Linked DNA regions of Homo sapiens: regions 1 and 3 are each linked to region 2. Evidence: fine-mapped expression QTL. A gene starts in region 2. Each other region holds a variant in brackets. All regions are shown on one strand. Distances are from middle to middle. Region 1 overlaps LINC02066 (long intergenic non-protein coding RNA 2066). Region 2 holds the start of IGSF10 (immunoglobulin superfamily member 10). Region 3 has its middle 9.2 kb from the start of LINC02066.

Region 1 (10,790 bases), 170 kb after region 2:
TAACGATGTGATTTAAGGCAAATTTCTCTCACTGGAGTGCAGTGGTATGATCATGACTCCCTGAAGCCTCAAACTCTTGGGCTCAAGCAATCCTCCCTACTCAGCCTCTCAAGTAGATGGGACTTACAGGCACACCATCATGCCTGGCTAATTTTTTAAATTTATTTTTTGTAGAGGGTCTCACTGTGTTGCCTGGGCTAGTCTCAAACTCCTGGCCTCAAACTCCTGGCCTCAAGCTATCCTTCTGCCTTGGCTTCCCCAAATGCTGGGATTACAGGCATAAGCCATCACACCCAATCTAAGGTGAGTTTCTTAACCGATCTGAGCCTCATCATTTCTTCATCTGTAAAGCAAGCACAGTCTTTCCTAATGTGCATTGAGGTTACAGGTAATCAAGAGTGCATGCTAAGCACTTGGCATTTTGTCTGGGACAAGGTAGGTGATATTGTCATTATTAAGAAAGATCAGGAAGGGCACCCCACAAGCTTGAGGTCAGAATGCCTAGCAATTGGAATTACTCAACATCTGAGTTAAGGCTGGGCTCTAACACTAGTTAGCTGGGCACCAAGGAAAACTCAGCGTAGGATGGATATTGTGTGCTGATGAAATGCTACATGGGGTGGTGATATTTACTGCCCCAGGTTCGTCATGGTGTGGAGAAGGTAAGGTGTGATCCTAAATATGAAGCCCCTTTAAAAGGCAATTATCAGCCATACAAATCAGGAACACTAGCATATAGAGAGCAATTTGAAATTTGTATTTGGCAGGTGTGTCTTGGAGAATCTCTAGGGAAAATATGTCCTCTTAAAAACCTTAGAGGATCTGTGAAAAATGTACCTTGCTGCCCCATCTGAAGGCTTCCATACCTCCTCTTCTTTCCTCAAACCCTCAGATGGGACATGGATTGCTTCCTTCTGTCTCTTCATTACCGGGGATAGTATTAATTCTTTGGTGTTCTTTATTATCCTTATTTTTATTATTATGTGAGAAATTTATTAGTAAAATTTTCAGTAAGTAGGATTACAAGCTAGTCTACCTGTGGATAGAATTGCAGCATATATAATACAATGAGAGAGTAGGGAGGGGAGATAAGGAAGCAAGGAAGAGAGAAAGGGAGAGAGTGATTTGTTTAAATTTTTAAATTATTTTATTTTATTTTATTTTGAGACAAGATCTCGTGTCTCCCAGGCTGGAGTACAGTGCTGTAATCGGCTCACTGCAGCCTCGACCTGCTGAACTCTAGCAATCCTCCCACGTCAGCCTCCCTAGTAGCTGGTACTACAGGTACATGCCACCACTCCCGCTAATTTTTTGTTTTTTTTGTAGAGACAGGATCCCACTATGTTGCCCAGGCTGGTCTTGAACTCCTGGGCTCAAGCAGTCCTCCCGCCTTAGCCTTCCAAAGGTTGGCATCAGACACCACAATTCAAGAAAATGAAATAAATTAACAAAATTATTAGGCTAAACCGTGATTTTTTTTCAGACACTGAATTTAAGTTTCTAGGTGTGTGCATTAGTAAGATCTAAAAACATTTCTCTTTTATAGGAAAAGAATTGAAAACTTTGAGAAAAAGATAAAGTGCCCAAATCAAAGCATGCAGAGCTAACAAATGGTAGAGCCGGCAATTGAACATAGGTCTCTCCATAGGCAAAGCCTATGTATGCCCTTTCCAGGGCACCAGGCTGCCTCCCTTAGCCTTGGCACTTGACTTTGATACTGGATACTCTTTTTAAAGACGATGTTATGTAAGTATACAAGGGTTACTTGTTTATTGCTTTTTAATTCACTCTCTACCCAGTATTTAACTGAAACTCTGACTTTCAAGGAAGTGTTATCTGTTATTAACAGACGTCAGGGTATAACAAAAATAAATTATTTTTATTTAGTAGTTTAGGTAACTTCCTGCCTTCAACATTTAATGCTTTGTTCAAACTTCTATGTAGAGAAGAATCTAGTTCATAGATATTTTTCATAATGATCATTCAAAGAAGTGGTGTTCACAAATCGGTGGTTATCTCAATTAGCTACCATCTTCCTCCTTTATGAGCATTTCCCTTCTCCTTTCAGACAGAAATAATATCTCTCTCCTTGGTGCTCCAACAGCGCTCTGTGCCTCTTCAATGGCAAAGCTGCATTTGCTTTGTCTTCTTCCTTGGCGGCTATAGTTTTGATCTAGACTGTAAATTCCCCACTAGACCATAAGTTCCTGTATCCTTCATTTGTAATATCTTAACAATATTCCAAGTATTTATTAGCCTAATTAAATTTTATGTGCCGTATTTTTAAACCGTTTCAGAGGAATTAATTTTAACAATGACTGGGTTATTTTGGTCAGATAATTCGTGAATAATAAGGAACATTAAAGCACTAACTAGTCCTGGTAATGGAGAGGCAGAAGGAAAGAATTTGGTGCTGGACCTAATGGCTGGAAGAAAGGATGAGCTGTGGAAAGGTTTTAGAAAGGGCTGCATAGTACATTTTCAGGTTTTTATTTGCTAACTCTTTTTCAGCTATTAGGTTGGTGCAAAAGTAATCGCGGTTTTTGCCATTGAAAGTAATGGCAAAAACCGCGATTACTTTTCTGTTAACATAATATTACAAATATGAAAGTGTGGATAATCAAAATAGAGCTATAAACAATTTGATAGAAATTAATTTCTGAATCATACCTTCCTTCTCTGCTGCGGATACATAACAGTTGGTAGAATTTATTTCTGTGGGAAAACTTGTACCTATGTTCAGCCTGTGACATGAAAATCTCAGGTACTGCATCAGCAATGCATCATCATCTTTTTCTTTCTCCCATTTTTATTGCTTTTGTGATCCTGTCCTGAATTACTGGCAATGCCTCGAACAACTTTAAGTCTCTTGCCGTAACTTGGACTTACGTGCTACAGTTAATAAAAAAGTCTTTAAAGAGCATTAAGGTCTTAAATAGCAAAAGCATTTTGATATTTCAGGACTATTGCTAACCAGGGGAATCAAAGAACATATGGCAAAAAGCTGTGCTTTTTCACATTCTGAGTAGGACGGGGCAGGGGAAATTGTGAAGAAAATGAGATAGGCCTGAAGACGTCCTGTGATTCCCTCCCTCCTGGCAGCCCAAGTGGGCCCTGGAACTCCCAGTTACTCCCCAACCCCCACCCTCACAACAGCATCCTCCCCAATGTCTTTTGGTCTTA[G/A]AAATAGATCTGACAAATATTTCCACTCTGAGGTATCCATGTTAAGGTCATGATGTATAAACACGATGAGGGAGTGAAAAGTAAACAAGCAAAGCTACAGAAGTTTTAAACCAACAAATGAGCATCTAATTGTGGAATGTGGGGCACTAAGAAGCTGGTTGAGGGAGAATTTGGAGAGTGTCAGTTCTTCCTATAAAAGGTTACCCTAATCCTAGAGGATAATATTCTGATCTTCTCTGAAGAAAGTATACAACTTACAAGAAAATTCAGAGGGCATCAACTCCACCTGGAAGAAAATCCAGCTGTTTTTAAGTTCTGATGTTTTGTTTTGATTTATCATTTTTTCCTTGCCAGTGATTTATAGTTGTAGAATGTTTAGAATTGGGTTAATGGGTACAAAAATTCAGTTAGATAGAAGGAATACGTTCTAGTATTTAATAGTACAGAAGGGAAATTATAGTTAATAATAACTTATTTATATTTCAAAATAGCTAAAAGAGAAGAAGTGTAATGTTCCCAACACAAAGAAAAGATAAAAGATAAATGTTTGAGATGACAGATATCCAATTACCATGATTTAATCATTGCATGTTGTATACATGTATCAAAATATAACATGTAACTCCAAATACATACAAGTATGATATATCAATTAAAGAAATCCAAGAAAGGGGTGTCTCCATTTTTAGGACAGTTCAAACCAAAATGTTCTTCAGCTGAAGTTGTCTGCTGTGGTGGGGCTTGGGGAGAGACTAGACTGCAGGGAGGAATGAGCCAGTGGTGGAGGTGGGGGGATAGACAGGAAGCTATCACAGGAGTTCTCAGCTGGGAAGATGGAAGTCAGCACTAGGAAAAGTCACAGGAGGATCAAATTATTCTCTTCACCTATCTCTGGCTCCTCCAGCTGCCCCCTTCCATCAGCTGGTTTCCACAAATAACTGGCCCTCTAGAATCTTACTTAAAAAATGTTCTCAACAAAGGGTTCCTACTCCCACTCACATTACTTTGAAGAGATAAGCTGGAATGTTTTACAAACAACCAGCTGAACAGGTTGAAAGAGCAGATGTTAAGCTGAAATGTTGCAATGACTAGTTTTGGTTCTTGGAACACCAAACACTAGATGACATCAAGTGTGTATTTTTAGCCTTATTTATAATGTGACAAGTCACATTTCACTCTCTCCTCATTGTCAAAGGCTATTTCCAAAGGATTACGAAGGAAGATCTGACTTGCATTAAAGCTTCTTTGACTTTGAACACAGCACATGTTTTCCATAAGGAAATCAATAAAATCTGAGAGTAGAACTTGAATAATATATTTCATTTCTAATGCAGCACTCACCTAGATAATTTATAGTGTCTCATTTTAAACTTTGCAAAATCACTTGGATGGGTTCTTGTTCTTCTAGTTTTTTATAGTTCATTAATTCAACAACTATTTATTGTGCACTTGCCATATAGCATAGGGACACATATATTCATAAATTGTTGGAGATAAACAGATAGCTCTGATGAACTTCATACTTTGAAGGAGGAGACAGCCCCATGAAGAAACAATGAGAAATACAGTCTGATCATTAATATAAAGAGAGGTGTGAACAACATGTGAACCTGGCTTTTGAAAGGAGAGGCAGGAGGAGCCAGGGAAGGCTTCATGGAGAAATCTGGTTTTGAAAGACATAGAAATGAGATAAGTGAGCAAAAGAGGTTCCAGGTTGAAGGGCAATGTGTGCAAGCCTGTACCTCATATTCTAACATCACAGCATATGTACGACACTGTATCTAGCACAGTTGTACATTGTGTCATCAGTCTGTACAATATGCTTTTGTACTTGACTCTATAAATCATGAAGCTTGACAACAGTGGTGCAATTTTTTTGTTGTTATTGTTTTGTTTTTCTTTTTTCCTTGTGGTTAAGTTGGTGATCTCAAGCTTTAGCCTGTGAATGAATCAACCTGATTGATTAAACATGGGTGACCCGGGCCATATTCCCAAAGACATGATTCAGTTGATCTAGGTGGGGCCTGGGAACCTGTATAGTGTTTTTAAAAGCCCTCTAGTGATTTTAATTAAGAGCATCAGAAGATCATGCATTGAGAAACACTAGATTAGGGAGGATAGAAAGTAAGGAATTTCTGTTTCTTTTTTAGGTTTTTATTTGCAGAAGGAGAAAATGAGGAAGAGAAAGGGTTGGTAAACAGTGTAGGACAAAGGAAAACAAAAGTAGCTGAGAGAGGAATTGAGAGGTGTTGGCCAGTAGGAATCTAGGTATCAAGAAGATAAGCTGCTGATTGTCAGCGTTTGGGAGGGAGATTTGCACAGGAAGGTACACAGTGTGAGAAAATAGCAATAATACTATGTAATGTAAAAATCTTAACACAGAAATGGGCTGCAGCTATGCCAAGATAAAGCATCCTTTTACAAATATAGTAGAGAACTGTGACTGATGACAAAAATAAAAGTTGGATAGATTGTGCTGATAGTTTATTTGGATATTAAATAGAAGGTTGGCCTCAGAAAGTTTTTTGTTGTGTTCTGGCACCATCTCTGCCAATTGTGTTCTGGAAAATATCTCTTCGTGTTTATTTTCTCATCACAATGAAAAGAGAGCAATGATGTTACGGACAATGCCATGGCTCACTGGAACCTGTTTGTGTTGAAGCAACAGAGATTATCTTGATTTTGCAGTTTCCTAATATCATTTATTTAATTGCTGGTTACACCATTACTCGTGATGCTGCATTATTCATTGTGACCCCATGAATACTGGCTTCCAATGACACTCAAAGGTTATTATTGTGCCGAGTTAAGTGCCACATATGTACTTGTGATGACTACAAATGCAAGTTTTATGCAGAGTATTCAGAAAAAATGGAGAACAATAATTCATTTGCTATTCATGTTAAGTTTACAGACTGGAATGTTAGAGCATAAACTAGAGCAATGCAACAACCAGCCATGTTTTCTCTTTAACTTGTTAAATTGTAATGATGGATTCTGAGAATGTGATCCCTTTCTATGTGGCTCCCACCTGTGCCTTCCATTCACTGCCGCTCTTGGGGAGAAGATGTGAGAGCCCAAGGGCAGAGCAAAAAGAGCAGTCCCATTTGCACAAGAAATGACCATTTCTCATCTGTCATGGATTAAAACTGACCCAGGAGAGACCTCTATCATTGTACCAATCAGCCAAGAGAAGACAATGATGAGAAAGGTCCATTGGCTTTGCAGAGCAACAGATTCTCCAGAGCACTGCTGGATGCAGGGTATGGACCCTGAAGATAGGTGGAATGACTGCTTTGAGTGCCAGTGGGTGAGGGACACATAAGCTGAGAGATCACTGTTCCCACCATCCTTAGGTGCTATAGACAGTATGTGGCATCAGGGTTGAGATACAGATAGGCAAGAGCTGATGCATGGGACCACACATCTGGCTCAAACCCAAGTACCAGCAATGGTCCTCAGTAGCTTGGAGCCCAGAACTTATCTTTTCACTGGGGTAAGAGCCACCCAAGTTAGCCATTCTGATGGTCCCATCTCACATAATCCCATGAAAGAAATACTGCAAGAGTCAGCAGGAGTGATCCACTTGTCAGGCCACTGTCCTGGAACCTGCATCTGAACCATTCTCCTGGAGCCTATTAGCATGAGTTCTGATGCTCTTCAGGATCTTGTGCAGAGGAGAGGGTTGCAGAGCATTTGGAAGAGAAGAAATGGGGTTTAAGATCAGGACATCATGCCCAGACAGCATTGGTAGACCTGATTGAGTTCAGGCAACTGAGGGTACTTAGAAAATGCTGAGGAAGTCATACAAAAATACGAAGTCTCAAACAGGGGCCCTCCTTACCCAGATCTCAGGGCAGTACTGCTGTCTGGATTCATAATCACAATTCCAGTTATAAACTTTGTGATCTTGAAAAAGTTATTTAACTGAACCTCAGTTTCTTTATAGATAAAATGGGGGTTATGTCTTACAAAGTTGCAAAAATTATATGAGCTAATTTATAAAGTGTCCAGCATAGTAATGCTTAGTAAGTTTAGCTATTGCTAGCTACTCATACCTCAGCCAGGGACGTGGGTGGGGTCTGCCTGAGTTGTTTGGGTCTATAAACAACTTGTTGCATTTGGGCAAATTCTTCTATATAGAAAGTATTAGGTTGGTGCAAAAGTAATTGTGGTTTTTGCCATTAAAAGTAATGCCACTAAAAGTAACCTTATACTATTTGTTTCCGATTATAAAAATGATGTTTGTTTTAGGAAACTTGAAAACTATACAAAAACATTAACTCATTCAACTTATTGAACAAATATATATATATATGTATATATATTTTTTTCAGACAAAGTCTCGCTCTTGTTCCCCAGGCTGGAGTGCAATGGTGAGATCTCGGCTCACTGCAACCTCCGTCTCCCGGGTTCAAGCAATTCTCCTGCCTCAGCATCCTGAGTAGCTGGGATTACAGGCACCTGCCACCACACCCGGCTAATTTTTGTACTTTTAGTGAAGACGGGGTTTCACCATGTTGGCCAGCCTGGTCTCAAACTCCTGACCTCAGGTGATCTGGCCACCTCGGCCTCCCAAAGTGCTGGGTTTACAAGTGTGAGCCACCACACCCAGCCTCAACAAGTATTTTTTTGAGTACCTGCTATGTACTGTAGGACTGGTTTTAGACACTGATGATCCAGTAGTGAACAAAACCAATAAAGTCCCTGTCCTCTTGGAGGAGAGACATACAATAAATTATACACATATCTAATATAGTATATCATATATATATTTACACATATATGCATATACCTCTGTGTGTGTGTATATGTTTGTGTGTGTATATATGTGTGTGTGTGTGTGTGTGTATATATATATAACATAGGTGTTCATATGGTATGTCAGATGGTGATAAGTACAAACAGAAAAATAAGTCAGGGCATGGGGCATATGGAGTGCCAGAAGGTTTAGAGATAGGAGTTTTAAATATAGTGGCCAGAAGAGACCTCACAGAAAAGGTGACATTTGAACACGTTCTTGAAGGAAATAAGGGAATAAATCATGTGTCTTCATTCAGGCTGCTTTTTCAAAAATACTGTAAACGGAATGGCTTATAAACCAGAAAGATTTATTTCTCACAGTTCTGGAGGCTGAGAAGCCCATGATTATGGCACCAGCAGATTTGGTGTCTGGTGAAGACATGTTTCCTCACAGAGAGCACCTCTGGCTGTGTCCTCACATGGTGGAAGGGGAGGGCTAGTTTTGTGGGATCTCTTTTATAAGGGCACTAATTTCAGTCATGAGGGGTCTGCCCTCATAACCTAATCACCTCCCCAAAAACCCACCTTCTAATACTATCCATCACCCTGGGGGTTAGGATTTAAATGTATTAATTTTGGGGGGACATAAGTGTTCAATCTATAATGCTATGAGTATAACTGGAGGAAGAGCATTCCAGGCAGAAGAATGTAACACCAAGAGTTCTGAGGCAGGATCATGACTCACATATGTGAGGAACAGCATGGCAGCCAGTATGGCTAAAGCAGAGTGGTGATCAATAGAGTGATGAGTGATAGAAAGAAAAGGCAGTGAAGGAAAGCAGATAGTGTGGGGCCTTGTAGATCATTATAAAGACCATTGCTTTTATTCTAATTAACATGGGAAGTCATTGTTGGAGTAGATTGTCCTCCATGGACGTCTTACGCACCTTCATACTTCATTGCTAAGTATGCCAAGAATGCAAGTCCCTGAGCACTCTTTATCCAGACCATTTCTCCGAGTCGTGTTTGTAATGAGCAACCTTGAGGGATGCCTTCTTCCAGAACAAAGAGCAGGCTTGCTTAGTGCTTGCTATAAAATGATGCATTCCATGAACTCATTGTCCCTCTCTTATAATGTACCCCACTGCATATGCACATATTTATTTTGGCCCATTGCCTTGCTGTCAAGGGACCTGGAGAGTATGGAGAACTGATGTTTGCAGCTGATGCTCATGCTGCCTGCTGGGCTCTGAGTAACAAAATCCTTCATGTTGGACCTAGGAGTCTTTTTGTCTTTGCTAGCATCCCTGAAACACTAATAGGCTAATTTATTAACTTCGAAGTAGGGTAATATAAATCTCATACTCTTCACAGTTCTTGACAGCCATTGTAAAATTTTGATCAATAAAATGACATGATTTGCCTCATGTTTTAAAAGGGTCACTCTGGCAACTCTGTGGAGAATAGACCTAGAGGGAGATGGTGGAAACATGAAGACCAGCAAGGAAAGAACTACAATAATTCAGGTGAGAAATGGTGGTAGTTTAGATCAGGGTGGTTTTGTGATGTTGGTAAAAAATAGTCCCTTCTGGATGTAGTTAGTCAAACAGAATTTCTGACAAATTAGATATAATTTGTATAATTTGTGAACGAAAAAGAATAAAGATTGACTACAAGATTTGGTTCAAGAACTTGTATGAATTTTTTCTTAACTGAGATGAAAAAAAGGGGAAGGATTTTATTGGGAGAATGGTAGAAATTAAGCTGCTATTTCTTTACATGTTAAGTTTCAGTTGCATATCAAGCATTTAAATGAGTGTTGAGTTAGCAGTTCAGGTGGAGTTTAGAGTTCAGGGCAGAGGTCAAGCCATGAGATATAAAAGTGTAAGAAGAAAAAATACTTTCATAATCCCTATTTCTAGAGACAGACACTTAACTTGCTGATTTACTTCCTACCAGTCTTTTTATGTAGGTGTATTCTTTGAGCATGGGAATATTCAAAAAATGTATGACCTTAGGTAGAGGCAATGACATTTTATCTCTTAATTTGATTAAAAAGGCATTGCTGAAACTTGAGAATGATGGAGAGTCACTTTTTCATAGTAATAGACATGCAGAATTTTAAATGATCTGGCAGAGTGTCACCTGGAGTTGTGTTGCAGATGTTCTGCCACACAGATTTGGCTGTGTCTACAGGTGCCACTCTGAAGAAGTTGGATGACTTTTTAACTTGGACCAGACTCAGTGATTCAAAACAGTTTCTTGGCCACATCCTTTCCAATTGAAGCTGAAAATGGGCAGATGTGTAAACAACCCTGGACAAAGAGGTAGCATACTTTTTCTACCCTAACCAGCATGTTGACAACTTGTGCCATGTTCATTACCCTGTTGTGGGTTCTCAAGTAAATTCCTTTTAGTAGAATTCAAATCGTGATTGTAAAAATTCAATCTAGAAATTCTAAAACAGCAGTTATTCTGAGCTCCCAATGTGGGTAGAGAAATGATCCATGTGGTCTCTTGACGCTGAGGCCAGCTTTGTTACTACGTGGCTGCTTTGGGCAATGTGGTGTATTGCTGTGTTTCTCAAACTTGAGACAACATCAGACTTCTGGGAGAGCTCATTAAAACACACAAATCCCTAACACCACCTCCAAAGTTTCTGATTCCACAGGCTTGGTGTGGAGCTCAGGGCTATGCATTTCTAACAAGCTCCCAAATGCTGCTGGTACTGCTGCTGGCCTGGTGACCAGCCCTGGAAAGCCACGGGTTTAGTTGTTAAGAACACTGGCCCTGGAGCCAGACTACCCAGGTTCAAATTAAGCCTTCATCCTGGGCAAGTTTCTTAACCTCTCTGTGCCTGGTTT
Region 2 (10,978 bases):
ATTAGCAGTCATTTTTTCCTATCCTCTTAGCCCTTCACAACCACTAATTTACTTTGTTTCCATGGATTTGCCTATTCTAAACATTTTATATAAATGGAATCATACACTTTATGGCATTGTGTCTGGCTTCTTTCACTTAGCAAAATGTTTTCAAGACCTGTCCCTCTCATAGCATGTATCAGCCCTTCATTCCTTTCTTTGCTGAATAGTATTCTACTGTATACATGCACAACGCTTTATCTATCATTGGTTGATGGACATTAAGAGGTGTCTTATACTTTTTGGTTATGAGTAATATGACTAATTTTGAGTTGCAATTAAAATAATTTTGAATATTTCAATAGTGCTCAGGTATTCTCCAATTCCCTCTCCAATTACCAGTTGAACATACTCTCTCCCATAAAGAAAAAAGAAATGCTAGTAAACACCATTTCTCATCATATTTTCCTGACTTGGCCTGAACTATCATCTCTGTCGAGAATGCTTCTCTAGAATGCCAAGACCCCTAATAAGAAAAGAAAATATAAGTTGGCAACATAGAAGAGCTTTGCCCCAAATGTAACCTGGGAGTTCAATCTCCAACTCAATGTTCCTCAACAGCCATTGAAAATTTGGTCGAGAGAATAAATATATGTAGAGAATTCTATAAAGGACATGCAATCCATCTATTCCTCCGAAGACATACATTCCAAATAGAGCCTGATTAACCAAATCAACAGAATCACATAGCTACATTATACTCTATTGCTCTCACCATGGTTATAACCTCCCTTACATAGCTCTGGTATATGTTAGAAGGCTCTATGAACACAGGTACTTCATCTTTTACAAGGATATTATTGACTTTATTTTATGGCACTGTATTTTATGAGGAGCTTTGTAAGACATTTCTTTCTGATTTAAAAATCATACATGGCTGTGCTTTTCCTGAACAGTTTAAGTTTTAATAGATGTCATGTATTGTTAGCGTCTTGAAAGCTTCAAGTCCTACTTATAGCAGACTTAAAGGTCTCTATGTATGCATTTCCTCATGTTCCCTTTATTCTTTTCTCTAGGCTTATTTTACCTTTTACTTTCTCACTTACTTTTGTGATCATTCTTGCATGATTTTATGCATTCTTGGGAGTCCTCTTAACTTTAAAAAATTGAACAATGTAGAACATGAATAAGTAAATAAAATGAAACTGAAAATAGTACATTGATTTATATAAAACTATTATCTGTCTAAGATAGTCATTACTTTTAGGAACCACATTCAATTCCCAGATAAACATGACTAGAAGTGTCCTTTTAGGATTAAATTTTGAAGGTTTATCGTCTCTGGGTATTGATTTTTTTTCTATTAGCTTGAGGTAGTAGAAAACTTGCCTCAGAGTTCTTATTATTCTAATTTATACACACAGTTCCACAGTTAAAAATCAGTTAACATTCTCCATTGACGTCTGCTTCTAATTTACAGAATGTTGATTTTCGTATTGTGTAGAGATAGGCAGCCTTTGAAGGTCTATCTCACAGGTCCCACCTTACCTCTTTAACCTGCCCCCTCTCTCCATCAGTCTCACCTGCAAGGCCTGCAAATCTGAGAAGGTCTTGTCAGGGATTGTGTGAATGCCATTGCTGTGAAGCATGAGTAACTCCAGTTTGGTCAGGCCAGAAAAATCTGTTTCCATCAATCTAACCAAGCTGTTGTATCTGAAATAAAAAATGACATTCTAGGCATAAGCTAAGTCTGTCAACTAAAGTTCAAATGTCATAACCAAAATAAACACAAGAAAACTCAATACCTCTCTTTATAACTGTACTCTATTGAGACAATCAAATGCTTCAAAAACTGAAATTCACCAGATGCCACAGAAGGTCGGCTCTCTACCCAGTTCTTGCCATTTCAGTTACAATCACCCCCCTCATATTCTGGGAACTTGTCACATTTCTTATCATTTTCAAACTTTTATATATATGCTGTTCCCTCAGGTTGGAATGCCCTTGACCTCACCTTTTTCTATTTGTGAACACTTAATATCTAGCCCATTCTTTCATGACACTATCTCCTCACCACTCCCCCAGGTGGAATTCGTCAGCAGTGGTTAAGAAGCCTGGGCTCTGGAGGCCAGGCTTGGGCGTCTCGTTTGGGTATGATTACGAGCTCAGGCTCAACAGAGTAGTGGTACAACCCTGGGTAAAATCAGCAGGCTTTCTGTGCCTCAGTTTCCTCATCTATAAAATGTAAATAATAGAACTCACTCCAAAGGGGTTATGAGGATTAAATGGATGCAGTGCTTAACCCAATGCCAGCACCTACTGAGCACAACCTTAATGTTAGCTCTTAATATTAGTGACTGTCTCTAAAACACTTTGTATGCTCTATTAGTTTTTATTAATTGTACTGACCGTACATTTGTCTGGTCTTTTTAACGATCAATACACATCCTAGAAGTGAATAGTATATCTTACCATTGTATCCCCAGTGCATAGTACATGCTCACTAATGTCAAATAAACGATGCTAAGTCCAACATGTGTATTCAGACACACACAGACTTTTTTTTCATGAACGTTTAAAATACAGTCATATTTTTAAAAATTTAATTAGGCATCCATTTTAAATAAGTTTGTATGGAAAGAAACCAAAGGGCCTATAAAAAGGATACATATATATATATATGTATGTATGTGTGTGTGTGTGTGTATTATATAGGCAGACACTTCCAGTTACCCTGTCATCTCTTATGATGAATGATCATAACCCCAATAGTTAACAGAAACTATATCATTTTCCAGCAAAAATGTAGCCAGAAAGAAGCTTTTTACCGTCATGAGTCTCCCAACCTACCAAGAGGGACTTCAAATTCTAGAAGAACTTTCTCCTAATAAAAGTTTACCAGGAAAAGTTTTCTTATTGCCCCCAACAAACAAAATTCTCATGAGCTCATTTCAGAAAAGAAATATTGTTAAAACAATTGAGATTCATCTCCCAAAGTCATAGATGTTTGAGGGACAAGTCACTGCTGCGACTGATCCCTCTTTGAGAAGAGGAAACATGAGGTCTCACACACCCTAAATTGATGCGTTCCACATTGGGCGGGATGCTGTCTGGGATGGAAGTCAGGTACCGAAATGTGCAGTGTACCTCCGTAGGCATATAACAGGCACAGCGGCGAGGACAGGCCTTGCCCCCAGGGGTGGCGACCAGGCAGATCACAGCAAAGGAGACCAGCAAGCAGGTGATTCCTCTGCCTTTTACCTTCATCCTGAAAAAACATCATACCTCAGAGTTATAAAGAGTGGTGGAGCAAAGTCCCAGGACCACCACACACTCACTCTGGGAATCTGGGAGACCTTCTTTAAGGGTCGTAAGTGGTCAATTCCATTCCTACCCTTTGTGGTCATATGCACTCTTTACAAAACTATAGTGTGTGCTGCTGGCCTCACACTGCGCTTTATGATCAAGTGGGATATTTACTGTTGTGAAAATTTCTTCACAGCTTCTCACTTCTTTATGAAAACCAGCAATCCCTATTACTCAGGCATTCATTAAAAGGGAAACTGGAAACCATAAGAAAGATTGTGACAACTAAAATATATAGAATTTAGTTTCCTTTATATACATTAATTCTTTTAGAGTAACTTTCAAGAAACTGATTATAACAGTAATATCTGTGCATAATAAAACATTTGGAAACTGTAATTAAGCAGTAAAAAGGAAAAAAATTACTCAATCTCACCACTTATATAATCCTTAAACATGTTGTTGTATTCCTTTCCAGCCTTTTTCATCTATTGTGTGTATATGTATAGGTGTACATACATTTACGTGTATATGTGTACATGTGATCAAACTCAATTTTGTAACACATTTTATCATTTCATATATAATGTTTTTTCATTTTATTAAACCTTCTTCAGAAACATTTTTTAAAGGTTGTAATAATCCACTGGAAGGGAGAATAAATCTCTTTCTAACCGGTTTTCAAGTCCCTGCCAAAAAAAAAGACACATTGAACACTTCACTGCCAAGTAATGACCATAAGCAACAGCGACTGACCAGCTGAGAGGGCTTGAGCCATGCTGACCCTGTGCAGGCATGATGCTGTCTGCTTTTGCTCAGCTTCGGACATCTCTCTGCCTTTTTCCTTGGTCCCTCCTCCAGCTCATGGCTGCCACAGGAGGTGGGGAGCATAACCAGGGAAGAAATATGCTCAGCTTGTCAGAAAAAAAAAAATGGTATCTGTTACCCATATGTGGGGCAAGCCCAGGAATTCAAACCTAATTCTCTCCTGAAATGCAGGATTGAAATAAACTCTTTATTGTGCTTTTCCAAGCAAAATGACCTTCATAATTTGTAATAAATCCCACCGTTCTGTGGAACAGCATGATGTTGGATTCCACCAGCAACCACCCTTTAGCTACAAACTACACTGAGAAATAACACTGGGGCTGAACTGCTTGGATTTTCATACAGATAAAAAGATGATGGATGTATTATTATAATTTAGTCCAAATTAAAATTTAAGATAGGATTAATCATATGACCACTTTTGCCATCGTAACCACCTGGTTACAATAATTTTAAATAAGCTTTGTATGATTGGAGACAGCATTTCCACCTTATCATTAGATAAACAAAGGAAGGAACAGCAGGATGAAGGTAATTCTCTCGTTCAGCTTAAATAAAAGTTCTGGGTATGCCCACGTTCAAATTATTTAAAAGAGGATCAATAGCATAAGACAACACATGAATAAGGGATTCTCACAAACGTAAGGCTGAAAATGTACATAATGAAATAGGAATTGGCAATACCTGAGCTCTTCTTTCAGGTCCTGAGTCCTCTTGTGACATAGGCAGAGACAGAAAATCTTCCCAGGAAATGGAAAATTGTGTCCAAACCTGAGGGAGGAAAAGTTCTCTGCTCCAAAGTGAGCAAAAAGCCTTATTCTTTTTGGCTTACAGCCAGGAGTAATGCTCTTCAGGGAGACCTGGAGCCGCTTCCACAGCTTCAAAGTTCTATAACTCATAACCACATTAACCCAGAAGCGTTCTTTTATTATGATGCTTGCTGTTGCAGAAACAAAAGGCTAAGTGGAGGTTTTTAAATTTCCTTTCTCCTCCCTCAGTAGTGTACTTAATACTCCTTAAAGTTATCACTTGAATATTAACTACTACTAATCACTCCATTTTGCTCCAAAGTCCCAAGAGCTTCTCCTCAAATTGTCTTTTTTGGACAAATCTGTCACAGATGTCTCCATCTATTGATTGTCTTTCCTCAGTGTGTGTTTTTTTTTTTTGCCTGGCACCAGTCACCGAAGAATTGTCGTGTGCTTTCATGCCCCCACCTTCTCCGGGTGCGTCTTCCCTCCCCCACCCTCAGCCCTCCCCGCCCCAGCGCCCGCTTCTGCAGCCACGGTACTCGCTCCATTCCCACGCCAAGCCCCAGCCGGCGTGGGGTTCCAGCCCTTTCCGGGGAAGGATTGGCCGAGGCGCTCACCTGTTTGCCCTGGTGACCAATGGGCTCGAGCTGCCCGGGCTAGGTCCCGGGCTCGGTCCCGGGCTCAGCTGCTGGGGTCGTGCGGAGCTGGTCCGGAGCTCTGGGAGGGAAGGAAGGAAGGCGGAGCGAGGGCGGGGGATGAGCCCGACTTCTGTGTCTGGGGACGCGGCCGGGGCTCAGCAGCACAAGGATGAGAAACGACCACCGGGCCCCTCTTTATGTTTACGAGCGTGTGGGAAGCTAATTCGCCGTGGCTTCACTCTTTAAATTCCCAGGGCTTTCTCCTAGCAAGTTGGCAGGTCCTGGCTGGGTGGCAGAGCAGTTTCAGTGGCCGCCCGTTCATTTCCTCCTTGACCTCTTCCACCTGTTGACAGGTGGGCCTTTTGGTTTAAGGGTTTACGTAAATCGCCGCAGGCTGTCCTTGGTCCTGTGGCTCCCAAAGTTCTATTTGAAGGCTAAGTTAGCGTTAATGACCTGTGATACCTGCAGTGTCAATGTTTTATTTAAACCCCTCTTTTAAAAATAAGTAAATTATATTGCGTATATTTAAGGTATACAACATGTTATGGGCTATATACAGATAGTAAAATGGTTACTATAGTGAAACAACATATCCATCATCTCACATAGTTACCCCATTTTTGTTTTTGTGACACGAGCAGCTAAAATCTACTCTTTTAGCAAGAATCCCAAATACCATACAATTTTATTAACTATAGTCCTCTTGCACATTAGATCTATATAAATGTATGCTACTGTGTATTCTCTGATCTACATTTTTCCATTTCCTTTCTCCAACCCCTATAACCACTATTTAATTCTCTATCTCTGTATAATCGACCTTTTAGAAAAAGATTTCACATATATAAGTGAGATCATACACTATTTTTCTTTTGGTTTCTGGCTTATTTCACTTGGCATAATGTCCTCCAGGTTCATCCATGTGTGACAAATGGCAATATTTCCCTTTTGTTTTTTAACTGCCAAACAATATTACATCGTATATAGATGTCTCAGAGGAATTCTTTTAAATCATTATCACAGAACCGGATTTAAATACTACTATTTCTGCTTGGATTACATTCTCCTTTCTCATCTCCAACCCTACCATCTGGAGGCAGAGATGCCTCCAGAATCACCTCTACCAACTTGCCCACATGTAATATCTCCTGCAATTCTTGGTGGGGCTCCCAATACTCATAAACACTGAGTTAACATAACTAAAATGACCTTGTTTCCTTCCACGTAGTTACATAGCACTTAAGCTTTTGATGACAATTTGCAATGAATGTTTTAGGGCAGTGGATCTCAAGATAGGGTCACGGGTCCAGCATCAGCATTACTTTGGACTTCGTTAAGATCAAAAATTTGCGGGATCCATCCCAGACCCACTGATTCAGAAACTGTACGAAGGAGGCTTAGGAGTCCATGTGTTAACAAGCCTTCCATATGATTCTGATGCAGCTACAATGTGAGAATTGCTGGTTTAGTGAAATAACTTCTGAAAAATGTTTTACAAATACCAACTCATTTCAGCCTCACCATAGCACCAAAAAGCCTAAAAGGAAAGTATTTATGTTATTCCCATTTTACAAGTAAGGTACATGAAGGAAAGTGACAGAACTCCAGGCCATGTGGCTTGTGAGTAGAAAAGCCGTTAATTCAAACTCAGGCAGTCTTGCCCTATGGTCTGAACGTTTAACCATAAAGTTGTGGCTGCCTCACTTAGCTAAACATGGATAATGTGCCATATCCCATGCCGAGCATTCATGTGATTTATGGTTAGTAATAAGTCAGTTACCAAAGTAGAATTATAGAATCAGAGACTCAGAGTTAGAAGTAACCCTAGAAGCATGTATATGAACATGGTCTTTAGCTCTGCAGAGCTGACAAGATTCTTTTAAATTAAAAATTCACGTGATGTCCAAACTTGGATGCTTGCTTTGGAAATGTGGCATATTTGTCGGGTTTTGGCAGCCACAGTTTATCTTTCTCCCAAAGCTCCTTGGTGACCAACCTCATGGCTTCGTATTCTTTAGTCAATTTCTAACCCAGGTCTGGACTTCCAGACCTCAACTAGGATGAACCACAGAAAGATGACAGCAACATGTTAAACTTATTTTCCTAGGCTTGTTACCTGGGGTCATTTTCTTGCTATCAATTTCAAAGTGAACTCCTGATAGGAATGTTTGCTTCTCTTAAGAATTTTTATGAGATAAATCTCTACAATTGCTTTATGTCAGAGCTCTTCTCTGACGTATTTTCTACTTTTCATGTCATCTTCCAGAATTATTAGAAACCTGAGTCATATTGGCACCAATTCTAGTTCCATTTGCTCCACTTAATAACAATTCTAATATTTGTAATTACTTTTATAGTTAGAGTATATATGTGTCAAAGCCTTTATATGTATTGCTTAATTCTCAGAAATATTCTGATGAGTAAGTGCTAAAATTATACCAGTTTTTCAGATGAGATTGCTGAGGATAAAGAATGCTAAATGATTCAGAGCCAAAATACAATACTGAATTAATTTTAAAATTGTAAAACCAATGCTTTTAAGCCTTACATTTTCTGGTTTTTTTTTTTTTTTTTTTTTTTTTTTTTTTTTTTTTTCTGAGACGGAGTTTTGCTCTTGTTGCCCAGGCTGGAGTGCAATGGCGCAATCTCGGCTCACCACAACCTCCACTTTCTGGGTTCAAGCAATTCTCCTGCCTCAGCCTCCTGAGTAGCTGGGATTACAGGCACATGCCACCATGGCTGGGCGCAGTGGCTCACACCTGTAATCCCAGCATTTTGGGAGGCCAAGGCGGGAGGATCACCTGAGGTCAGGAATTTGAGACCAGCCTGGTCAACATGGTGAAACCCCGTCTCTACAAAAATACAAAAAAAGCCTTATATTTTCTATCTTCTTCCTGCTTCTATTTATAAAATTTGGAGAGTCCACAGCATATCAAAGAAAAGTTTCACCACTCTTTTTTCTAACCATGCTTAATAATGCAATATGTTTCTATAGATTCATATGGTTTACAAATCACTTTCACCTTTGAACATGGCCTCATTTAATAAGAAATATATGAAATTCAATGATAATGACTTTATTTTGTAATTGTAACTTTATTTTGCAGAAGTTAATTGAGTGTATAATTTGCCAAGATCTCAGAGCTGAGCATAGCGACTCTGAGTTAATTGTCAATCTGAACTCCTAAACCTGTGTTTCCTGGACTACGGTAATTTACCTACGCTTTAAGGATGGTTTGACATTTTAATTACCTCTCACTATAGTTTTACCTAATGATTTTCTTTAAATCCTCCCCCTCTTTTTGTTACTCTTTTCTTAAACAGTATTGTTGGTAAATTCTCAGGCTTTGTATTTTTTCTAGTAAACACGACAATAAATATACATCTTCTTCACCTTTTATATCACCCCTGAGAATTACATTTCCCCTCATCTCTAGGTCTTTGACATTATTTGCTGTCTTTTCTAGTAATTACTACTTCTTACTCCTCATCCTTAATTTATCATCCATACCATCCTTTACATCACCCTCCTAATCAGAGTATTTATTTAACACCAATCAACCAAGCGCAAGCAGTTACAAGTCATAGATCACCTGACAATCAGAACAAGCTATGAATTTTAAAACTGACTTATATATGTGTCAACAGATAACCAAATGCCAAAATTGTTACATATCTTTTAATCAGGCACAATCATTACCACCTCCCAGCTCCACAATTTTCATATTATTCAATTAACCAAACAGTCAAGACCTCCACTGAGTGATTCCAATAGCAGTGAAGTAGACTGACATCTTAGCCCTTCCTTTTTTGAAGTTACAGACTAGCACGGTAAGTGATAAGTGCCATGAAGAGACATAATGCAGGAAAAGGAGGTAGAAAGAAAATCAGTATCATCTTTCTTCCAATACAGTTGCAACTCAACCAACTAAAGTCAAACTACATGACTTGAAGACTTTATATATAGTATTCCAGATCTCTAACCTTTCAGAGCTTTCAGAACACCATGTATGGGTACAGTTTTGGAAGATGTGGAGAAAAATTTGAAGCAAATGCATGGTCCTCTTATAAGTCCATGGACTCTGGATTATAGGAAATAGAAAAACTACCTAGGAGGCAATTATAATAGTCCAGCCTTAAGACAATGAATTAAAGTGGTGGTTGTGAGAATAAATAAAGATTTTAGATCTGGAGGAACAAGAGTTAAGATTTTACTTAGGGAATAAAAGAGAGGATGGATGAATCTCACATTTTTGTTAGTGACATCCAAGGATCCTAGGAAAGCCAGGGCTGAAGTAGATAAAAGTTAGAAACCTGATATAGATGCAAACCTGAGAGAAGACTAAGGCAGAAGGAGCACAAGAATGACCATTGTTGTTGTCAAGAGTTTAGAAATAGGTGCCTGAAGAGCAGCTCTGCTGACTTTAGTTTTGTACTCTGGTCGCTGTAAATGCTCTGTGTTGCTTTTATGATAAGTATTGTATCAAAAGCCATTGGTTGAGGTTTGCAGAACTCACCATGATTTCTTAAGCCTGGGTAGGAGATGCACCTAAGAGATTTGAGAACTCTTCTAGTTTCTTCTTCTTTTTAATGAAAAGACATTATTATTACTTTACTATATAACATATTAGTGAATACGGCAGCTTGTATTTTCTCAAATGGGAAATGGCAAATGAGGCACATTTTTCTGATTTCTCCAGGAAGCTCAGTATCATCTGTCTTTTGGAGGATTTAATTTCTTATGACATCTGTCATACTATCCAGAGGATACCAATGGTGCTGTTACAGCAAACTAAATATGGCCTGAGAGGGACGTTGTACTTCTATATTTGAGTCCTTGTGGATGAACTGTAATCTAATTTAATCGGTAGACAAGATTGAAAACCTAACTTAGGAATATGCACCTGTAACAATTGCTGAGTCTTGGCCAATCCTAGCAGTCATACTTCAACCACTCATGCACTGCTGAGTGTCAAACTGTGTTCAAATAAGGCAAATGCCAACCTGTAACCAATCCAGCTGTTTCTGTACCTCACTTCTGATTTCTGTATATCATTTTCCTTTTTTTGTCTATAAATTTTTTCTGACCACGAGGCATCCCTGTAGTCTCTCTGAATCTGCGGTATTTCTGGAGGATGTCCAATTCATGAATCGTTTTTTTCCTTGTTCAATTAAACTTTGTCAAATTTAATTTGTCTGAAGTTTTAACAGATCTGGCATCAGAAGTGGGATTCAAAGTAAAACTCTGGCGACCCCCAGAAATACCAGGTGACCAGGCGAGGTACCCGCTGAGCCCATTGTGCTCACTGTTCTCTTGATTGTAAATGGAGGTCATGGGTGAGTTTTCTCTCAGATTCTGAACTCCAGTAACTTGTGTTTTGGGGTCTCTGAGTTTACTTGAGCAATACTTAGACTGCACCGAGTCTAAGATCAAATTGGATTTGATAATTAACTGGATTGAATTCAATTAGAGGC
Region 3 (10,978 bases), 82 kb after region 2:
AGACAACATCATTAAATCATTCAAAGCCAATTGTTCTACCATCTAGTTCATTTTTCCCCATCATGTACATGATGCTATGATGAAGCACTTGACTAATTAACCGAAATAGGGTTTATACTATGCCTTCTTCATACACCAGTTTAGCCACACTGTCAAAAACCAAGCAGTGAAGTTAGTCTGTAATGGCCTGTTATTGACAAAGGCATTCTAACTTTAGTCATCACTGTTTCCTCTTCTAAGTGTTCATGGACTCTTAAAAAAAATAATAATCTCTTCTAGGATTTTTGTCAAGCTCTCTGATCTGTAATTCAATAAACCTACCTTCTTTCCCTTCTAAAAATTGGAGCAACATTTTCCATCCTTCAGTCTCCTGGAACCTCTCCTGTTTTCCATGGTTTCCCAGTAATTACCCACAGTGGTTCAGTAATTATAGACATACGTTCTTTCTGTTCCCCAAGATGTAGTTTAGCTAGGCCAAAAGATTTGAAATCCTCAGAGCAGCTAGGATCCCTCTCATGAGCCCTCCTGCTTCCTCAGTTTCAGATTCCTCTGACTATTACTCACTCCTCACTTTTCCTGGGTCTACGACTTGGCAGAGATCAAAATTGTGGGATTCTTAATAGTTGCCAAACTTCACGTTTAGTTAAGGGTCTTCAGAAGGACCTACTAATTGTCAGATGCAGAGTCAAAGTCTCATTCTGCGACTTCACTGATAAACATATTTGATATTCTTAGAGGTTTCTTAGAATTGTGATGGGTCACTCCTGGGACCACCATAACACCAGAAACACAAAGCCCATAGAAGTTCATTATTGCCCACTCATTATTGCTTAATATATTTCTTTAATTATTAACTAAAAGCTTAAAAAGGCTGTTGCCCTTTTTATAACGAGAAGGACCTGGATTTTTTGTGGGTCTGTGCTTGTTTCATTTGGTTTTTAATTCTCTCTCACTTAAATAAGGACATTATAATGGTTTAAATGGTTAAATACCTCACTTCACAGCCAAGTAATAGTAGAAGAAACGTAAGACCACAGCCTAAGTAGAATGAGAAATGTAAGTCTTCGGATTATTCATTGGAATATAAAAGTGAGAAAAAGGGTATCTAGTTCCAATATTTAAACAAACACAATCACCAAGACTTTGATGCTGTTTTTCCATTAACACTGCTGACATCAGACCCCGAGCAGAATTTCCATAAAGAAATTTAATTTAAAATGTCCAGGACACAATATTGCTTTAAGAACATTACTCTTTCAACCCCCAAGTCTAGCGCAGTGTCTGGCATGTAGTAGTCACAGAACAATGTTGAGTTGAATTTACAAGCCCCACATAAAGAATGTAAGTTAAATCTTGGACCCTTAAAACCATTATAATTGTTTCACAGGCAGCAAGGGCTCAGGGAAAAAGAAAAGGTTTTAGAACAAAACATGCATTGTGAGAACTGTTACTCCAGCAAACGAAAACACATCCCAATAACAATAATACTTCAGTTTCTGTGGGCATTTGAAGAGGCACGATAAAGAGCCAGCTTTTTTTCTTGCCTGTGTTTTTAAAAACACTGGAAGAGGAACAAAAATTTCTGGCAGATGGCGATCAAAATATCAGCTTCATTGCTGTTGGAAAGGGGCCTAGATTTTGGTAAGGCTAGACCTGCAAATACAGATCCCTAGAATTAGGGACTTACTTTAATCCTTGCTTTTTTCCAGCGGAGTCCACATGTTACACATGACTACAGAAGAGTCACAAGTCACAGCAGTCCAGACAAACGCTCTGCTTCCCACGTGGAGGCTTGCTCTGTAACCCGAGAGAAGACCAGATGCAGACGTGAACTTTCGCATAGCCGCTCTTAAGAGGAAGGGGAAGAGAGGAGCTAGCTATGACTGCCCTCTTCCTTCTTTTAAATTCATCAAATAGGCGAATTCACTCCACCTGAGTGTTTGAGTGTTAAGGGCGGAACAAGAAACTGGTGCTTAGAAAAACCAGAGGAGTGGAGCATTGTTTCTACTTAAGGGTCTTTTAACACATCTTGGCTTAAAATATGTTTACATATTCATCTTCTTCCCAAACTCAGGATGGCAAGCAGAGTACATATTTTCCCTCTTTTTACAGTTAAGAAATGGAGATGCAGAAAAAAATGTGTCATAGTCACTTGAAACTCATTGTATCAATATGAATCTGTAATCCGACCACCCCCACCTCCAACACCCAGCTGGTTGTTCTCTCAATAGATAGTGAAGAGTGATCCTTGATGATTATTCTTAGGCTGTAATCCTTTCACCCAGCATTATTTCAACAGCATCTATCTATCTATCTATCTATCTATCTATCTATCTATCTATCTATCTATCATCTATCTGTATCTATCATCTATCTATCTGTCTATCTATCATCTCTGTGTGTGTCTGTCATTCGTCTGTCTGTTCATCCATCCATTCATCTAAGAAACAAGAGGTGCAGGGAGGGAATTTGTAGTGAGAGGCTTCTGACAGAACTGGCCTTAGTCCGAGCCTAAGTAACCTAAATAAGTTTTTCATCCCCTTAGCTGGGCGTCAGTGGTGTCATTTTGTGGTGGGAAGTGAAAGAAGACTTTCTAAATCGATGAACAAATCAGAAGCCTATCCCTCAATTAATTGTCATAAAGAAATCTCACCCATCACAACCAAATAACATAATTTAAATTTTTTAATAGAAGTATGAAATAAACACAGAAAAGCGTATATATCATAAGTGTACAGCTCAGTTAATTTTCAAAAATTGAACATGTGTAGCCAACACTAGATCGAAAAACAGAACATTACCATTTCTTCTGATCTATATTATTCTCTTCTGGTCACCCTCACCCAAGGGTAAGTTTACCTGAATTTCTAAGATAATACATTAATTTTGCCTGCATTGTACTTTTTATGAATGGAGTAATACAGTATGTACTCTGGTGTCCAGCTTCTTTTGCTTAACATTATTTTTTTGAGGAGTATCCATATTATTGTGTATATTTGCAGATCATTTATTCTCATTAGTGTGTTGTACTGCAGTGTGTAACTAAACCACAGTGTAGTTATCCATTCTACTTTTGATAGCCTGTGAGAAGTTGACAGTTTAGAGCTATTATAAATAGTAGTGATGTGAACATTCTTGTTCGTACCTCTGGTGCACATATATCTATGTACTTCTGTTGACTCTATGCCTACAGTGGTATTGCTGGGTCAGAGGGTATGTATTTGTTTGGCTTTTGTGGATGTTAGCAGTTTTCCAAAGTGTTTACTAGTTTATACACCCACCAGCAGTGTACAAAAATTCCAGTTGCTTTACATCCTCACAAGCCTAGTCCCCCACGAAAATGCACACGAACCAATCCCTGCAATCTGTGAATATGATACCTTGCATGGCAAAAGGAACTTTCAGAGCCACAGTGGAGATCCACTAGTAATTTTGTTGCTCTCTGAGGATCTCCTCAGTTTTTCACTGTTGAACCCTGAACAACCATCTACATTTTAAGTGTGAAGGTTACAGAAGAAATTATTGGAACAACTGCAGAGGGGAGACATCAGAGGGAGTTCAGTTCCAGATAGTGGAAATCATGCTGAAGTTTGTATAGTGTGTATGGAACAAATGATTCCGTTTAAGGTTAAAAAAACAAACCTTAAAATACCCTCAAAACCTCAGTAGTTTAATTAAGTTCATTACATCTGATGTGATTAGCAGTAAGATTCATAAACTATCAGTTTCTCCTACATCAGTCATGTTTTTGACTGTCCACAGTTATCTAAAACATATTTTACAAACTTCATGGCAGAAAGTCAGATGTGTCTGTTGAAGTAGAATGACTTCAAGACAGTATATCTTTACATTATATGGGAGGCTAACAAAACAGTAAAATTTGTTATGATACAGAGCTGAGTCATGTCAAAAAAATCATATTTTAGAATTTGATGTCAGTGAGATTAGCTAGCACACTAAAGTTCTTTGTTTAATTTGCTAGGCCATAAATTCAGTTTTCTTATAGTCATATAGATGAGATTTAAACACATTACTGAGTAAACAAAGTACTTTTAGAGGTTTGCTCATGGTTGTATTTTAAAGTTGACACTATTCTTTTAGGAGGCTGATATTTCTAATTTTATATTGTCCTTTTTGATAAATTGGCTTCTCTCTCTCTGCATATGTTTTAGTTTTTTCTTTGTAGTATCTCTATTTTTTATTATTTCATCTTACTAATACCTCCTCATGTCTTATGAAATTCATCATCTTTTCCTCCTTCTCTCGAGGACATACAGAAGTACAATACATAAATACATATACATACATATGTGTGGATGAGTGGATAGATAGATGTATGTCTGGGGCCCAAGCTAGACCAATCAGCTGTGGAGAAAATGGGGGTCAAAGCAAGCTAAGCATGGCCACTTTCTCCCTTAAGAAAAGCAACTTTCCTTAGAAAGGATTGTGTATGCGGCAGGTAGCATGACCAATGTTCTTAACACATTCTTTGGCTTCATTTTAATCTCTTTTCCTGAGTTGTTCCTTAAATTACTGTTGCTTTCACACCCAACTCCCTTCTCCTCTCATTCACGCTTAAAAATTTCCCAGGTGATCTTATTTATTCAGTGGCTTTTACAGCACTTGCTTTATCTCCAGCCCAAATGACTTTCAGGTACTCCAGGTTCTGGCTATCACACAGGCACTAAACTCAAAACATTTCAAAATAAATCCATTATTTTATATATCCAGGCTGCAAATGCTTTTCTTCCTGTATATCTTATGTCAGAACCATAAATGCATATAAATACTCATTTTCTTTATATATAATATTGGACATAATATAAGACACATATAGTAATTTTTTACTGTATTTTCTCACTATAACGAAAATCTCCCTTACTTTAACATAAGTAGAATTCATTCATAAGGATATTTTAAAGTAAGACAATACACAGAAGTATATAGGGATAAGCAAGTCTTCCTCTCATTTCTGACCTCTGTATTCTAGTCCTCTTCCTCACAGGCATCGACTCTTCTCAACATCAGCTACATCCTTGCAGGGATACCCTTTGTATAAATATATATGCATGTGTATTTTTCTTAAAATTTATATTCTGCTGTGGATACATTTCTTTCCTTGTTTTTCCACTAACAGTATAACTTGAATACTTACTATAAAAACAAAATAAATGTTTTTAGTAAGAAATGTTTATAGTAAGAAATGTTTATAGTAAGAATTTACATAAGGAAAACTTCTTATAGTTTCTGATTTGGGTTCTTAAAACTAACTATACTGTAATCCTGTTAGATTACGTCCTTTCAAGGAGGGAATGCTTAAAGTTACTGTTGATGATTGTAATTTGTTTTATATACTTTTGTCTTGTTAAAATCACATGTTTTTATTAAAGGTATTTTTGTACTTTCCTCACCTGCTGTCTAGAGGCCACACAATTTTAGCTTTTTTTCTGACATTGCCACTGTATTTCAAAACAATGTGCTCATCTTTAAAAATGTGCTTTATCTTCACCAATTCTAGACATCGTCTATTGATATTTTTGTTCAAAAATGATTCAGCTCATTTATAAAATCTCTCCTACTAATTCCCCTAGTCAATTTTTCAATATAATTATATCAGAATTTTGGTTTAATTAAGGCTAAATTTTACATTATGA[A/G]TATTTGTAAGAATTCTCTCCGTAGTCAAGGAGACTAAGTCCATGATTATCATTTGGGTTTTCCTGCAGTAAATAAGTATTAGGTTCAGGGGTCTGGGTCCAGCCTATGCTGCCGTCCAAGGGGAGGAGTGGGTCGATGGGCAGAAAGATCACTCAGGGGGCCATAGGCAGGTGAAATGCAGTTTTATTCAGCAGCTTTTTCATCAGCAGCTTACCCACATTAGCTCTCTTACACTGTCCACCTTTATCTTGGATGTCTGCTCCAGCTCTGTGGCTTCTACTACCCCCACACCTGCAGCTGCACAGCTGGCTCTCCCTTGCCTTCAGGGTCAGCAGCTTAACTCTTTCTCTCTCTGGGCAAGAGCACGAGCAGTGTTGTGCCATGCCGTGCCATGCCAAGCTGTGTCCTGCCTCCCCTCTGTTCACCTGCAAGATGAACAGCTTTGCTTGCTCTCTCTCTTTCTCTGGGTACCAATGCCTGAACAAAAGCCATGACCAGTCGAGCTGAGCCAAGCCCCTGTGCACAGTGTCAGCAGGGCAATTACACCTTTTACAGACAATAGTGGCTCAGAGCCAAGTATGAACTTACACAAATAGGTTATATAACAAGTGGAGGTGTGCGTCTGCCTGCCAAACTTGCTGAGTCATGCAGGCCTGGATATCTGCCTTGGCCTATTCCTTGATCAAAGCATATCCATGTACCTTACAATAAGTATCTGTTTAGTTTTCTATGTAGCTATTGATAATTTCCCCCAACTCCCTACCCCTAAGTGCTCAAACAGATCTGTCAAATGTCTTTTCTTTTATTGAGACGGAGTTTTACTCTGTCACCCAGGCTGGAGTGCAGTGGCACAATCTTGGCTCACTGCAACCTCTGCCTCCCAGGTTCAAGCAATTCTCCTGCCTCAGCCTCCCAAGTAGCTGGGACTACAGGCACATGCCACCACGCCTGGCTAATTTTGTATTTTTAGTAGAGAAGGGGTTTCCCCATATTGCCCAGGCTGGTCTTGAACTCCTGACCTCAAGTGATCCACCTGCCTCAGCCTCCCAAAGTGCTGGGATTACAGGCATGAGCCACCACACCTGGCCTGTCAAATGTCTTTTAATATTTCCAGTGTACTCAAACACATCAGGACTGGGTTTGCCTAGGAGAACATTCTGCAGGGGCCCTCTGACTGGCTCTAATTGCTCCTGGTGGCTCTCCAGGCTGCTGCAACACAGCAGTCTTTCTGGGGTTTTCTCTGCTCTCACCTCCATAGGATTTCCTGTTTTCTCTACCTCACATCTTTCTTTTGGTATAGCAACCTCTAAAGCTTTTCAAGAAAGAATGCATGGAATGTTTGAAAATATATATCCAGCTTCCATGTTTGAATGACAGTTTGATGGCTTAAAAATTCTAAATTGGAGAGCATTTTCACTGAGAATTTTAAAGACACTGCTCTATATTTCATTCCCTACCCACCTACCCACCCTGTTTTAGTTTTGCTGCTGAAAGTCTAATGCTATTTGATTTCCAAATCCTCTGTTCAATGACCTGTTTTCTCTTTCTAAAAGTATTTAAGATTTTCTCTCTTTTTTTTTTTTTTCAATGCCCTGGGGTTTGAAATGCATTGTGATGTCCTTTGCTGTGTTTTATTTATTGTATTATGCATGCGATAGGCCCTTCAATCTGAAGATTTTTGTGTTTTGGTTTTGGAAATTGTCTTATTTTACTTCTATGATGATTCTTCTCTCCTTTGTTTTCTCTGTTTTCTACTCTGGAACTGTTATTAGTTTAGCTATTGGGTCTTCTATACTGATTCTCTAACTTTCTTAATTTTTAAATTTTCCATCTGTCTCTTGGTTTCTGAGACATTTTCACAACTTTATCTTTCATATCTGTTGAATTTTCTATTTTAGTTATTCTACATTTAAGTGTTTTAAAATTCTTACTTGGATCCTTCTTAATAGCCTTTTGTTATTGTTTCACAACTGTAATATATCCTTTAATCTTTTTGAGCATATTAGTTACATAATTTTGAAAGTTTTTTTATGCTTCTTGCATATTCTCTTTTTTTCTGGGCTTGATTTTCTATTATTGTGGGCCTGTTTTCACATTAGAGACTTTTCTCAAACACCTGGCAATGCTTGGCTCCCCACTTGTAGTTAAAAGGAGGCCCTGAGAAGCAAATGGAATCACTGAGTGCAGTTTGGCAGAATTCACTGTAGGGTAATAAGGCAGCAAGGTGCTCTTCTCATGTAGGAGATACTAAGAGATTTTTCTCTTGAGCTGCTCAGTTTCACAGTGAAGAATTCTATAATCCTCTGCCTTGCAGCTTTGGAGGATGAAGCAAGGCCTTTGCTCTGAGTGCTAAATAATAGGCTTTCTATCACTTCCATTGTTTTTGGTCTTATGGTTTAGCCCAATTTCTGTGGTACTTTTGACCATCAAGTCCTGAAGTTCTCTAAGTTTCCATAGGGAAAATTGGCTCAATTCAAGCTGCAATCCCTCTGCAGGTGTCTGCACTTTAGCATTCCTGCACTTTGCTTTGTCAAGAACCGGCCTTCCATCTGTTTGTTATTTATTTATATTTTCCAATTATTTATTGGCATTCCTCATCTGCTGTCATCTCCTCACCTTTCTCAGCTTTGTCCTTGAATTTGTACTTTAAAAATCATTTGTCAATTTGATAACATTTTTGGATGGAAAGAAAATAAACGTGGTGAATATTTGTTAATTGAAATTGTCATGAATCAGGAAGAAGCAAAAGGGTGCTGAAGGGTAACTGGTTAGGAATCTGTAGTGCAGGGGTTAACAAATTACTGCTCCCTATCCAAATGTTGCTCGCAGCAGATGAGCTTAGCCTGGTTTTTACATTTTTAAAGGGTTGTAAAACAAAACAAATCAAAACAAAACATTAGATTAGAGATCATATGTGGCCACAAAAAAAAAAAAAAGCCTAGCATAATTGTTACCTAGCTCTGTACAGAAAGATATTGCTGAACCCAGCTTTAGTGCAGTGGTTCTCAACCTGGGAGCATCAAAAACAGATCTATGACCAGGTCTCACTCTGGACCATTAAGCAAAAATCTCTGTTGGCAAGGCTCAGGGGGTGATATTAGCATGCAGCGAGACTATTATGAAAACCCTCTCCTACCAAAATACAGCATTATCTACACCACCAAGATACCACCACCATCCCACCAACAAGAGCAACTGATAAATTTCTATGCTTGTTATTTACTATTTATGTTTATTTACTTTTTGAGACAGGGTTTTGCTCTGTTGCCTTGGCTTCAGTGCAGTGGTGTAATTATGGCTCACCATAGCCTTGACCCTCAGGGCTCAAGCGATCCTCCCACCTCAGCCTCCTGGGTAGCTGGGAGTACAGGTGTCCACAACCATGCCTGGCTAATTTTTTTTTTTTTTTAATATTTAGTCGAGATAAAGCCTCAGTATGTCGCCCAGCCTGGTCTCAAACTCCTGAGCTCAAATCCCTCCTTGGCTTCCCAAAGTAAGCCATCATGCCTGGCGTATGTTTATTTTTGGCAACATTATATACACATAAATTGCTTGTACAAGCCTGATGATTAAAGTCAAAGTCCTCTGTGTCCCTCTTCCCCATTCTATAAGTATAGCCTCTTTACATTTTTTAAATTAATTCTTTTCTCCATATTTCTTTTTTTTGAGACGAAGTTTTTGCTCTTGTTGCCCAGGCTGAAGCGCAATGGTGCAATCTCGGCTCATTGCAACCTCCGCCTCCCGGGTTCAAGCAATTATCCTGCCTCAGCCTCCTGAGTAGCTGGTATTACAGGCAACTGCCACCACGCCCGGCTAATTTTTATATAATTAGTAGAGATGGGGTTTCACCATGTGGACCAGGCTGGTCTTGAACTTCTGACCTCCGGCGATCCACCCCCCCCTTGGCCTCCCAAAGTGCTGGGATTACAGGCGTGAACCACCGTGCCCGGCCTCTTTTCTCCATATTTCTAAATAATATGTTTATATTGCTTCTTCAGGATTTTTCAGTTTTAGACATTTTCTATTAACTTTCTACCATGAAAAATAAGGATTTAGTTCCCTTTCACAACCACACCGTCCCACACACATGCAAGCTTCCAAGATCCACTCCATCCTTTTTAATAGTTTTCATTAGAACAATATTCATTTTGTTAAATATGTTCATCAGTATGTAAATGCTTTTCACAGCTGAGCAATGCCATAGCCAGTGATTATGTTCTTGCACAATTATGTTCTTCCTGAAGTTAGTAATTAATCTTACTTTTGACTCCTCTCCTTAGTTTTCCATATATTATATAAATATATATATACACACACACACACACACACACACACACACGTTATTCAAAACTAAACTGTTGCCAATTGTCTAGGTCTTCTCTCAGTATAGACATCATGTATTCTATTAATATCATGTTTGTGAAACAGCTTCTCCTAGAGCCTGGACTGGAGGCTTACTGTACCTGGTGCATATTTGTCATTGGACTCTGGTTTTCCTCTTTCAGAGATGTTCTTTGCCTCTGGGTTGTATGGAGTACTCTGGTTTCTAGAGCCCAGATATTCTTCTTTCTTGGTTTAAGTCTTCATCTTGGAGCAAATCCATCAGTAACTTTATGAGAAAGAGTGCATGGGAGACAAATGCTCCTGATATTGCATGTCTGAAAATGTAAAGAATCCGCCGGCATGTTATTTACAGTTAGCTTGCAAATGGAATTCTAGGTTTAAATGTATTTTCCTTCATATTTTAATGGCATCAATCCCTCACTATACAACTTCCAGTTTTACTGTTTGAGCAACCTGAAGTCATTCTAGTTTTATATGTTTGTGGTGTGGAAGATTGTATTTCCAAAAATGGTTGCAAAATATCTTTGTCTCACATGCTTTTCTACAATGTGACCTTTCTACTCTCCCATTGAGATGTGTGTACCTTCCCTTTGAATCTGCATGGCCAGTAATTTGCTTATATCCAACACATTATAGTGGAAGTGATGTTGGGGTAATTTCGAGGCTAGTTTAAAAGAAGCAGTATGCCTTTTGCCTTGTTCATGGGGACACTTGTTTGCGGAACCCTAAGTGGCAATATAAGAAGTCTGACTACCCTAAACATTATGCTCTAAGGAAACCCATGGCAAATAGAGAGGCCTCATGGGGTTCCTCTGTCAACAGCCCCAGCTAAGGTTCAAGCTGACAGCCAGCATCAAATGCTAAATATATGAGTGAATGAGACTTCAGATGATTTAAGCCATCTGTCCGTCATCTCTAGTTGTCTTCCCAGCTGAAGTCACAGACATTGTGGAGAAGAGATAAGCCATTCCTACTGCGC

Evidence for each region. PIP is the estimated chance that this variant, and not a neighbour inherited with it, causes the effect.
Region 1: its variant is fine-mapped to the expression of IGSF10 in skeletal muscle (GTEx, PIP above 0.99).
Region 3: its variant is fine-mapped to the expression of IGSF10 in pituitary (GTEx, PIP above 0.99).

The regions. Positions count from the first base shown.
Region 1 is chr3:151,627,020-151,637,809 of GRCh38, forward strand. It overlaps LINC02066 (long intergenic non-protein coding RNA 2066), which reads left to right. Exons shown (of 5, transcript NR_183765.1): 2 at 9,365-9,452; 3 at 10,123-10,253. Among named protein-coding and RNA genes, the nearest start is that of MIR5186, 66 kb to the left of the region's middle. The variant G/A (reference allele first, on the strand shown) is at 3,184.
Region 2 is chr3:151,455,464-151,466,441 of GRCh38, forward strand. It overlaps IGSF10 (immunoglobulin superfamily member 10), which reads right to left and starts at 5,598. Exons shown (of 8, transcript NM_178822.5): 1 at 5,483-5,598; 2 at 4,798-4,884; 3 at 3,053-3,247; 4 at 1,563-1,692. The coding sequence starts at 3,246.
Region 3 is chr3:151,537,466-151,548,443 of GRCh38, forward strand. It overlaps a transcript of IGSF10 not described here. Among named protein-coding and RNA genes, the nearest start is that of LINC02066, 9.2 kb to the right of the region's middle. The variant A/G (reference allele first, on the strand shown) is at 5,655.